Regions from separate parts of the Homo sapiens genome. Here region 1 is linked to region 2. The links come from fine-mapping of genetic effects on gene expression. A gene starts in region 2. The other region holds a variant in brackets. All regions are shown on one strand. Distances are from middle to middle.

Region 1 (5,239 bases), 610 kb before region 2:
CACGTATCTTACTGAGAAGAGACAGGAAATTATGGATAGATACCAGATGAAGACGTTTCAACTAAGGTCTGAGTAAAAACACGAAAGGAATTAGAAGAAGGTGGAAAAGCACAAATATAGTAGAAATAGGACACCACCACCAAGTTATAGATTAATGAAGTACACTTAATAACCAATAAAGTCATGAACATATGTCATAATTCATATTAACAAGAAGAGAATACATAGAATAGTATATAATTTTCTGAACATACCTGACTAGCGTCCTTTATATGTATGTTGTCAACTAATTTGCATAACAACCAAAAATACTCTTTACATCCTGGTTTTAATATTGGTTCTTCCTCATAATCATCTATCTATTAAAAAAATTTTATACTTTGTGAAAACATTTTAAAAATAAATAAAATTATAATACATTTAAGAAACTAGAGGCTTTATGAAATAAATTCCTATATCCACTAAACAGTATTCAAAATCTTTTTAAAAATGGAGTACACGCTTAGTTTCTGTAAAATCAGAATAACCAGGCAAAAAAATGACAAACGTAAGAACTTTTAGGAAAATATTAGTCTCAAATTACTGACATTAAAAAAGATATGAACAGGGAGGAAAATAATGTAAATCCAACAACACACTGAATTTCTGGGGTTAGTAAAAAGTGGGCTCTAAATTTATTATGTATTAGAAGCCTTTTAAAGACTAGTATATGAACTAGGGTAGGAAATAAAATTTAAAATTCTGAATATCATAAAGATAAAAAGAAAACTGTGACTTACTAGAGAAGAGAGCTCCATTTATGATTTTTTATTAGTCAACTTATTAACACAAGGCCCAGAACCGAGTGAGAATAAATGCTATTTCTAAAATAGAGTATCCATGAGAGACCACAGAGCTGAAATCAGTCTCTTCCTAGTAGTAACATGGACACAATGTGTCACAATGCTGTCACCTTAAGTAGTATATAACTACTATCCTCTTGGTAAAAAATCACATACAGTAGTCAAATGATCAAAATTTTAAGGATATATTACAACGGTAAACTGAGGCAAAGGAAATTTCAAAAATAGAAACTGCTTCTAAACACAGTAAAATCTTACCCTAATAGGTTTGAGTGCTTGAGCATCAGGAAGAAATTTCAATAATGTTGAGGCAGCCAATAGCAGAAAAGAACGATTGATTGAGTCTCCTCCATCCAGCCCTGACAGGGATAACTTATAGAGACCACTGCATGATTCATGACGAACTGCAGTCTAGATGAAAAAGAAAGTTCCACAAACAGTGAGAGTTAGTATTACAAAGTTAATATGTTAGCAGAAATAATTTTAGGTGATTTTAAATACAATGTTCTGCCGGGCAAGCCTGTAATCCCAGCACTTTTGGAGGCCCAGGCAGGAGGATAACCTGTGGCCAGGTATCTGAGACCAGCCTGGCCAACATGGCAAAACCCTGTCACCACAAAAAATACAAAAATTAACCGGGTGTGGTGACTTGCGCCTGTAGTCCCAGCTACTCTGGAGACAGGCACAAGAATTGCTTGAACCAGGGAGGCAGAGTCTGCAGTGAGCTGATATGCCACTGCTCTCCAGACTGGGTGGCAGAACAAGATTATGCCTCATAAAAATAATTAATAAATATAATGTTCTAATCCCATACATATATATATGTAAATTACACATGATCAAATAAAGTATCTCAAGGTATACCATAATATATAAATACAGTGTTTTAGAAATCCTAAAGCATGGCCATAAAAACAGAAACAAAACAAAATAATGACAACAGGTAAATACAAAGAATAATTGAGTAAGGACATTTAGAATCATTTAAGTTATTTACAAGTCAGTAAGAGGATAAAATATTTTCAGAACTAGAAGCAACACAGAAGCAACTTCAATCGGAATATTCTATAGATTGTAAGCAAACTGTCCAAATGTCAAAATGGTTACCTGAGACAGGACTAGAACACAAATGACATTATATCCAGAACTAATTTTGTTTTGTTTTGTTTTGTTTTTAAGACAGAGTCTTGCTCTGTCTTCCAGGCTGGAGTGCAGTGGTGCGATCTTGGCTCACTGCAACCTCTGCCTCCTGGGTTCAAGCGATTCTCCTGCCTCAGCCTCCCGAGTAACTGAGATTACAGGTGCCTGCCACCATACCCAGCTAATTTTTTGTATTTTTAGTAGGGATAGGGTTTCACCATGTTGGCCAGGCTGGTCTTGCATTCCTGACCTCATGTGATCCACCCACCTCGGCCTGTGATTACAGGCGTGAGCCACAGTGCCCAGCCAGAGCTAATATTATTAGACAACGCAGGTTTAAAAAATAAGTGACTTTGGAGCTAAATATATTACTGTGTGTTTCTATTATTTCACATAGGAATATGAGGTGAGTAATGCCAAGATACAGCTAATAAAAATTATATTGGCCTCAGTGTCAACATGGGAAGCAAAATATATTTCTTTTATTTATTTGTAGTCTCTCTAGCCTCTATTTCTACTTAAATAGAAAACACAGGCTGGGTGCAGCGGCTCATGCCTATAATCCCAAGCAGTTTGGGAGGCCGAGGCAGGAGCATTACATGACACCAGGAGTTCAAGACCAACCTGGACAACACAGCGAGACCCCGTCTCTACAAAAAAGTTAAAAAACTAGCTGGGCATGGTGATGTGCACCTATGGTCCCAGCTACTTGGGAGGCTGAAGCCAGAGGATCGCTTGTTCCCAGGAGGTTGAGGCTGCAGGGAGCCTTGATTGCACCACTACACTCTAGCCTGGGTGATACAGGGAACAGGGAGATTCTGTCTCAAAGAAA[G/GA]AAAAAAAAAAGGCCACAGAACTTTTCTAAAACATAAATTACCAAAATAAATTCTCAAGCCCTTCCTACTACCTGGAAAAACTTTTTTTTATTAATCCAAAGCAAAATAATCATTCTATAAACATTTCAGAAAAATATAAATGCTACATAATATATAATAGTCAGAAGTTCTTAAACATTGTACATAGTTCAAAACACTCTAGACCTTAAAGGATTAAGCAGATAATGTGATATATTTATGGACTCACGCATATTTGTTTCCATTAGCTCTTTTATTATCAATGCTAATAACATGAAAACATACAAAAAATAACAGTACTAACCTTCAATCTTTATCTTACCTCAGGAATAAGGAGAGTCAATTTCTTTAGCCAATCTTGTAAATGATCGCTATCAGCAAGGCTAGATTTCACTAAAGAACAGCAATGAGCCCAACTCACCAAGAGCCACATTGAATAATGTGAAACTAAAGAAAAATTAGAAAACAGTTCACTATAAAAGGTTTGTGCTAAAATGAAAACACAATGTTCAATATTAAAGGTAAAATATATCAATATATTATTCAAGTTTTTATTTATTAAAAGTTAACTTTGTGGAACCCTTACCTTCATGTCTAGACCTGTGATCAGACTGAGCTTTTAAAACTCTGTAAAGTAAAAACACCACCACCACCAATTAAATTCAGCAATGAATTAAAAATAATTCAATTTATTAACATATATCCTTTAAGGTTATCACTTCCCCCCCAAAAAAGGAAAGCAGTGGGTGTGTGAGTGAGAGTGAGAGTGAGAGTGAGAGAGAGTGTGAGTGTGTGTGTGTTTTAAAAGACAGGAGACAGGGTCTCACTCTGTTGCCCAGGCTGGAGTGCAGTGGCATGATCATGGCTCACTGCAGCCTTGACCTTCCAGGCTCAAGCAACCCTCCCACCTCAGCCTCCCAATAGCTGGGACTACAAGCATGTGCCACCACACTCAGCTAATTTTTGCAAAAGAGACTATATTTTAAGAGAGCTCCATTATTTATTTGTTTTATATTCTTTATCATTTATTTAAAGACTCACTGAAGAAGAGTCAAACTCATTGAAGAAGAGAGTAGAATAATGGTTACCAGAGGCTGGAGGGTGGGGTAGGGTAGGGTGGGGTGGGGCAGAGGGTATAAGTCAAAGGGTATGAAGTTCCAGATAGAGCAGGAAGTTTTGAAATCTATTACACAGCAGGGTGTCTAGTCAATAAAAATATATTGTATGTTTCAAAATAAAAAACAAACCAAATAAAAGAATCACTGGTAAAATCTTATTACAGCAAATACGAAATGACTTCAGATTTAATAAACAAAATTTGAATGAATAAAACATTGACTGAAATAAGTAAACCCTCAAGAAGTGCTCATGATTTAGTTACTAAAGAGATGTGTGTGACAAACACATAGGTTATAATGATTTAGAGTCTAAACTTTAAGACTCCTTTAAAAAATACATAATCTGAATCTAATCATGAAGGCTAATCATGAAAACTCAAACTGAAAAGTACTCTATAAAATAACTGGCCTGCATTACTTGAAAATGTATCATGAGAGAAAGGCTGAGAAAGTTATCTCTGATGAAAAGAAACAGAAGAACTGACAACTAAATGCAATACATTTAGTTGATCCTGAAGCAAGAAAAATACTGCTATAAAGAATACCAATAGGATTATTTTAATATGAACTATATGTTAGATAACATATCAATGTTAAATTCTATAAATTTAAAAATTTTACTCTAGCTATTAAGAAAATCTCCTTGGTCTTAGGAGATACACAACAAAGTACTGGTGAACAGTCATGATATCTGCAATTCAGTCTCAGAAGATTCAGGAAAACATGTAAACACACAGAAAATACGTGACTCATAAATACAAGACACATTTTAGCAACAGGTTAATAATACGTAAATTTGGATGGAAGGTATGAGAGATTTCATCATAATATCCCCCAAATTTTTCTATTAAGTTTAGAATTTTTCAAAATAAAGTTTTAAAACATTATATTCCTGCTATACATACACACATAAAATATATCTTAAAATGCATACCTAGGAGCCAGATTATCATACGTATAAGCAACAGACATAAGTCGCTGAATCAAACTGGTTCCTTGGACAAGAACAAGAAATACCTTTAAAACAAAAACATTTTAAAAGATATTTAAATACAGCAAAAGGAAAACCCTCAAAAAGCACTCAAGATTTAGTTACTAAAGAGATGTGTATTACAAAATTTTAACCCAAAATTCCAAATTATTTTGATATTTATCTATAACACAATAAAGAATGTCGTAAGAATTCTTTGAAAATACTGTAAAAATGCCAAGAATCGGAAAACCAGAATTTTATAATCACACTTAAGAGCAGCAACTGTAGGCTGGGTATGGTGGCTCACTGTAATTG
Region 2 (5,239 bases):
GAACTGTCTAGATCTAAAATACTGATGGAGGAGTATCCTTTTTCCAAAATGATTAGGACCAGAAGTGTTTTGAATTTTGGAGTATTTCAAATTAGGAATGCTCAATTTACAGATAATTCACTTATTTGTTTACTCTGTCTAGTATGTAATCTCTGAGAGCAAAGACTTTTGTTCACTAATGTGAACATGGTAGATAGGTGGCCCGCCAACACCGCCAAAAGGGCAAACCACAATGGAAATGCTACAGAGCAAGATACTCTTCTAAAAAATCCAACAAGGCTGGGCGTGATGGCTCACACTTGTAATACCAGCACTTTGAGAGGCTGAGGCGGGCAGACCACCTAAGGTCAGGAGTTCGAGACCAGCCTGGACAACATGGCGAAACCCTGCCTCTACTAATACAAAAATGAGCCGGGTGTGGCGGTGCGCATCTGTAGTCCCAGCTAGCTACTCGGGAGGCTGAGGCAGGAGAACCGCTTGAACCCAGGAGGCAGAAGTTGCAATGAGCAGAGATCACACCACTGCACTCCAGCCTGGGGGACAGAGCAAGACAGACTCCATCTCAACAAACAAACCAAACCTAACAAACCAAACAAAAACCAAAACTCTCAAATCATAGCTTTTGGTCATCATCAGTATGTTATAAAACATCTCTGGGGCCGGGTGCGGTGGCTCACGCCTGTAATCCCAGCGCTTTGCGAAGCCAAGGCAGGCCGTCACTTGAGGCCAGGAGTTTAAGACATAACGGGTCATCTTCACAGATAACTTAGGTGGCCTTTCCTTCCCACATGCACACCCTCCTCTGTTGTTTCAGTTCTTTGTCTGCTTTTGTTTCAAAGGTTGCTAAATTTCCCACTTATTTTGTTTGTTGAATATCAACCATATTATAAACTCTCTTGGCCCCCAAATTTATCTTTTTTTTTTTTTGAGACGGAGTTTCGCTCGTCACCCTGGCTGGAGTGCAATGGCGCGACGTCAGTTCACGGCAACCTCCGCCTCCCAGGTTCAAGCTATTCCCCTGCCTCAGCCTCCCGAGTAGCTGGGACTACAGGCCTACGCCAACACACCCACCTAATTTTGTATTTTTAGTAGAGACGGGGTTTCTCCATGTTGGTCAGGCTGGTCTTGAACTCCTGACCTCATGTGATCCGCCAGCCTCAGCCTCCCAAATTGCTGGGATTACAGACGTGAGCCACCCTGCCCGACCCAAAATTTATCTTTCAACATTCTGTTCCTAATCTAATAAATGTAAGCTTCAACTATGGTCCCTAGACAATTATCCTACAAACCTTCGTTTCCAGGTGTATTATCTCCTAAACTTACAAATGACTCCTAAATCTGGCCATTCTGACCTTTCCAACTCATTAGGACAAGTTAGAAACTATTACTTTTTCTTACATCCAGCGTTACCTATCTTAGCGCCATCACATTCCCAGTTACTTGGGCTGATGACTGCAAACACATGTAAGGTGTACTTTATATACGTGGGTCTTTATATGCTTTCTCACTGAATCCTCACAGCAAGCCTACACGATGGCTAAAAAGAAATGATCCCATAGCTGGGGGAGATTAAGCCAAATACTTTCCAGGACACCAGGCCTTTAACATCTGCCCCAACCTAGCTTTCTAATCTCACCTCTTCTGTAAACATACTACTATTCTCCAACCCAAAAGAACTACTATACTCAATATACACTCGGGCAAGATCTCTAAACCTCTGTCCTGACTTTTCCTTCCAGATTTTTCTATTTCAACTCGATTTCTCTTAATCTTAACTCTAAAAAGCAAACATTTTCCTCCAATTTTATAAGTGAATCTTTGGCACAGAGGTTACAGGTCACTAAGACATGAAGTAACGGAAGCAGAGAATGAAACTCTGGTCTTCCTGATTTCCAACGTGTGCCACACACTTCCACAAAAAAAACAAATAATTGTTTCTTGATTTGCCTATGTTTCACTGCACATGCGGAGACGACATCAACGTAACTTTTCCGCAACTATTTCAAACACGACACGTAAGTCGGTTCCCACATCCATCCCAGTACAATGGGCCCCGCCCCAATTTAGACTCGGAGAGTTCACCCAATTCGTCTCAACAGTTGTGCCAAGTGAAGTTTATTTAATAGTTCTTTAAATAAGAATAACAAAGCTGAAAGATACTGTGCATTCTACCAGTTCCAATAAGCAATAAGCGACAGCCCTCAAGCGTCAGATCCCTAGTGAAGACTGCATGCAATCCTCGGCATTTTGAACTGCTTTCGGCTCCAATATGAATGATGCACAGTGCAGGATGAAAAACTAAGGGAGATTAAGATGCAAAATGGGGCAAGTCCAAAGGCCTCCATACTCCGGGTTGGCGATCATCGGCAGAAAAACAGAAATAAGGATCCCTCCACTGGGCTGCTTCTATAGGGAGGACAAGAGAGGATCACCCGAAGAAATGGGAAATGAGCCAAACCCGCTCAAGCCCACGATGAGAGCGCAGAGCACAACCCCGCGGCGCCGCGGGTCAGGCCATGAGAGTGATACCTTTGGCGGCGGAAATGTTGCTGAAGCGGATCTGGGCTGGCTTGTCGCGGTCCTGATAGGCGCCTTTCCCGCGGCCGCCGGCAGCCCCGGCAGTCGCCCCGCTCCGGGGTGCCACATTCTCGGGCATGGCAAACTCCGCTGTGTCTGGGTTGGCTCGGGAAGGACGGATGGACCCGGATTCTGGCCGGCCGCAGTGTAATAACGGTAAGCCCTCACTGCCTTCACGAACCTTCCAGAAAGCGGCGCCGGCGTCGGGAGGAGGCGGAGGCGGAGAAGGGGGCCTTCCTTGCCGCGCGGCGCTGGCGTGACGTAGGAGGCTGTCCGCTGCGCGCCGGGCGAGGAGGATGCGTGCGGTGGGCTCCGGGCTGGCGAGATTGTACGCCCGGGGCGCTGTGGGTGAAGAGCGCCGGGGGAACCTTTACGCGAGGCAGCAATGACAACGCGCGATTTTAAAGGCGAGTGGTGAGGACATCCGCATTTCCTCACTCCACCTTGCACGGCTATGAGGTCCCCTCCTTTTTTTTTTTTTTTTTTTCTTTTTTTGGATACAGTCTCACTCTGTTGCCCAGGCTGGAGTGCAGTGGCGCAAAATCTCGGCTCACTGCAGCCTCCGCCTCCCAGGTTCAAGCGATCCTCCTCAGCCTCCCGAGTAGCTGGGATTACAGGCGTCCGCCACCATGCCCAGCTAATTTTTGTATTTTTAGTAGAGACAGGGTTTCACCATGTTGGCCAGGCCGGTCTCGAACTCCCGACCTCAGGTGATCCACCCGCCTCGGGCTCCCAAAGTGTTGGGATTACAGGCGTCAGCCACGAAGCCCGGCCTTTTTTTTTTTTTTTTTTTTTTTTGACAGAGTCTCGCTCTGTCGTCCAGGCGGGAGTGCAGTGGGGCGATCTTGGCTCACTGCAGCCTCGACCTCCGGGGCCCAAGCGATCCTCCCGCCACAGCCTCCCAACTAGCCAGGACGACAGGTGCCCGCCACCATGCCTAGCGAATTTTTGTATTCGAAACATAGCGAGACTGGGTTTCGCTGTGTTGCCCAGGCTGGTCTGACCTCCCCGGCTCAAAGCGGTCCACCCTCCTCAGCGTTTCAAAGTACTGGGATTACAGGCGTGAGCCACCGCGCCCACCCGGAGGTGCCCTCCTTTAACTCCGGCTGGATCTATCCGCGAGGTGGGGTGGGCGCCGGAATAACTCTCTAAGGGATATGACTGAGTCTGTTTTTGCCCGGCCACATAGACCTGCATTTTATGCAGTTTTGTTCATTTTGAAAGGGAGTCAGAAAAGGGAGATTTGGAATGAGGCGAGGTTAGTTATCTCGTATTGGTTGATACTGGGTGGTGGAGGTTTGACAGACTGCCAAATCAGGTCTGTCTAGTTACCACCGCCCGCTTGTTCTACACTAGTGTCTCCTGCATGACGTAGCCACTGACTCTTAGGGAACGTAAACATTATAATAAAGATCATTTATTTCCGTTATCTGCTAAGCACAGTGCTAAACCTTTACACGTTTTATATCTCGTTTAGTCCTCACAATAATCCTTTACTTAAAAGGTGAGAGAACTGGAGCCCAAAGAAGGAACTGAAGCCCAGGGTAAACGAGTCAGTAGATAGAAGCAGTATTCCAATACAAAGCAAGGACCAGAAGCCATGAGCTAAACTGCTGGTCTCCTATGACCACTATATTTCAGTAGGGAAGTTTATGAAATGAGGTTTGTTGAATGTTCGCTCACAATTATTAAGCACCTGCAAAGTGACAGTTGCGTGTGGTAGGTTCAGAAACAAATGTTCAAAGGTACTTAATCTTGTAATTATGAGGTGGTGGTGGTGTTGTTTGTTTGTTTGTTTTTGTTTGTTTTTGAGACGGAGTTTCACTCTTGTTGCCCAGGCTGGAGCAGTGGCACCATCTCGGCTCACCGCAACCTCCGCCTCCCGGGTTCAAGCGATTCTCCTGCCTCAGCCTCCCCAGTAGCTGGGATTACGGGCATGCACCACCATGCCCGGCTAATTTTGTATTTTTAGTAGAGACGGGGTTTCTCCATGTTGGACAGGGTGGTTTCGAACTCCCGAGCTCAGGTGATAGGCCCGCCTCGGCTTCCCAAAGTGCTAGGATTGCAGGCTTGGCGAGAGCCACCTCGCCAAGTTGTTCTTTAACACACATTTAGCATATTAGCACTAGGGGCCTGGCTCAGTAGCTCACGCCTGTAATCCCAGCACTTTGGGAGGCCGAGGTGGGTGGATCGCTTTAGGTCAGGAGTTTAAGACCAGCCTAGCCAACGTGGCGAAACCCCGTCTCTACTAAAAATCAAAACATTAACCGGGGGTGTAATCCCAGCTACTCGGGAGGCTGAGGCAGGAGAATCCCTTGAAGCCAGGAAGTGGAGGTTGCAGTGAGCCGAGATTGCGCCACTGCACTCCAGCCTGGGTGATAGAGCAAGACTTTGTCTCAAAAAAAAAAAAAAAAAAAAAAGAAGGATATTAGCACTAGGAAATGAAGATCCATAAACCTCTGAGGCCGACTTCTCTTCAGAGGACCAGAATACTCCCAAGTAGCACATAAATTCTATGGTTATTTGTTTAGACAACTGATGTAATATGTTGGAAACAAGTGGGTGATGAGGAAATGCATTAATTTTGGGATGTAAAATACTGGATTTGAGTTTATTAATAGCTCTGCTACTTATTAGCTATGTGACCTAAGGAAGGCCACTT

The links. PIP is the estimated chance that this variant, and not a neighbour inherited with it, causes the effect.
Region 1: its variant is the best candidate, but not a certain one, in a credible set for the expression of CCT4 in nasal epithelium (TOPMed, PIP 0.83).

The regions. Positions count from the first base shown.
Region 1 is chr2:61,279,990-61,285,228 of GRCh38, forward strand. It overlaps USP34 (ubiquitin specific peptidase 34), which reads right to left. Exons shown (of 80, transcript NM_014709.4): 35 at 4,886-4,968; 36 at 3,420-3,460; 37 at 3,156-3,280; 38 at 1,101-1,253; 39 at 255-359. Among named protein-coding and RNA genes, the nearest start is that of C2orf74-AS1, 100 kb to the left of the region's middle. The variant G/GA (reference allele first, on the strand shown) is at 2,815.
Region 2 is chr2:61,885,852-61,891,090 of GRCh38, forward strand. CCT4 (chaperonin containing TCP1 subunit 4) reads right to left here and starts at 2,805. Exons shown (of 14, transcript NM_006430.4): 1 at 2,530-2,805. The coding sequence starts at 2,656. It also overlaps a transcript of COMMD1 not described here. RefSeq lists enhancers at 1,833-2,394, 2,395-2,954, 2,496-2,575, 3,515-4,074.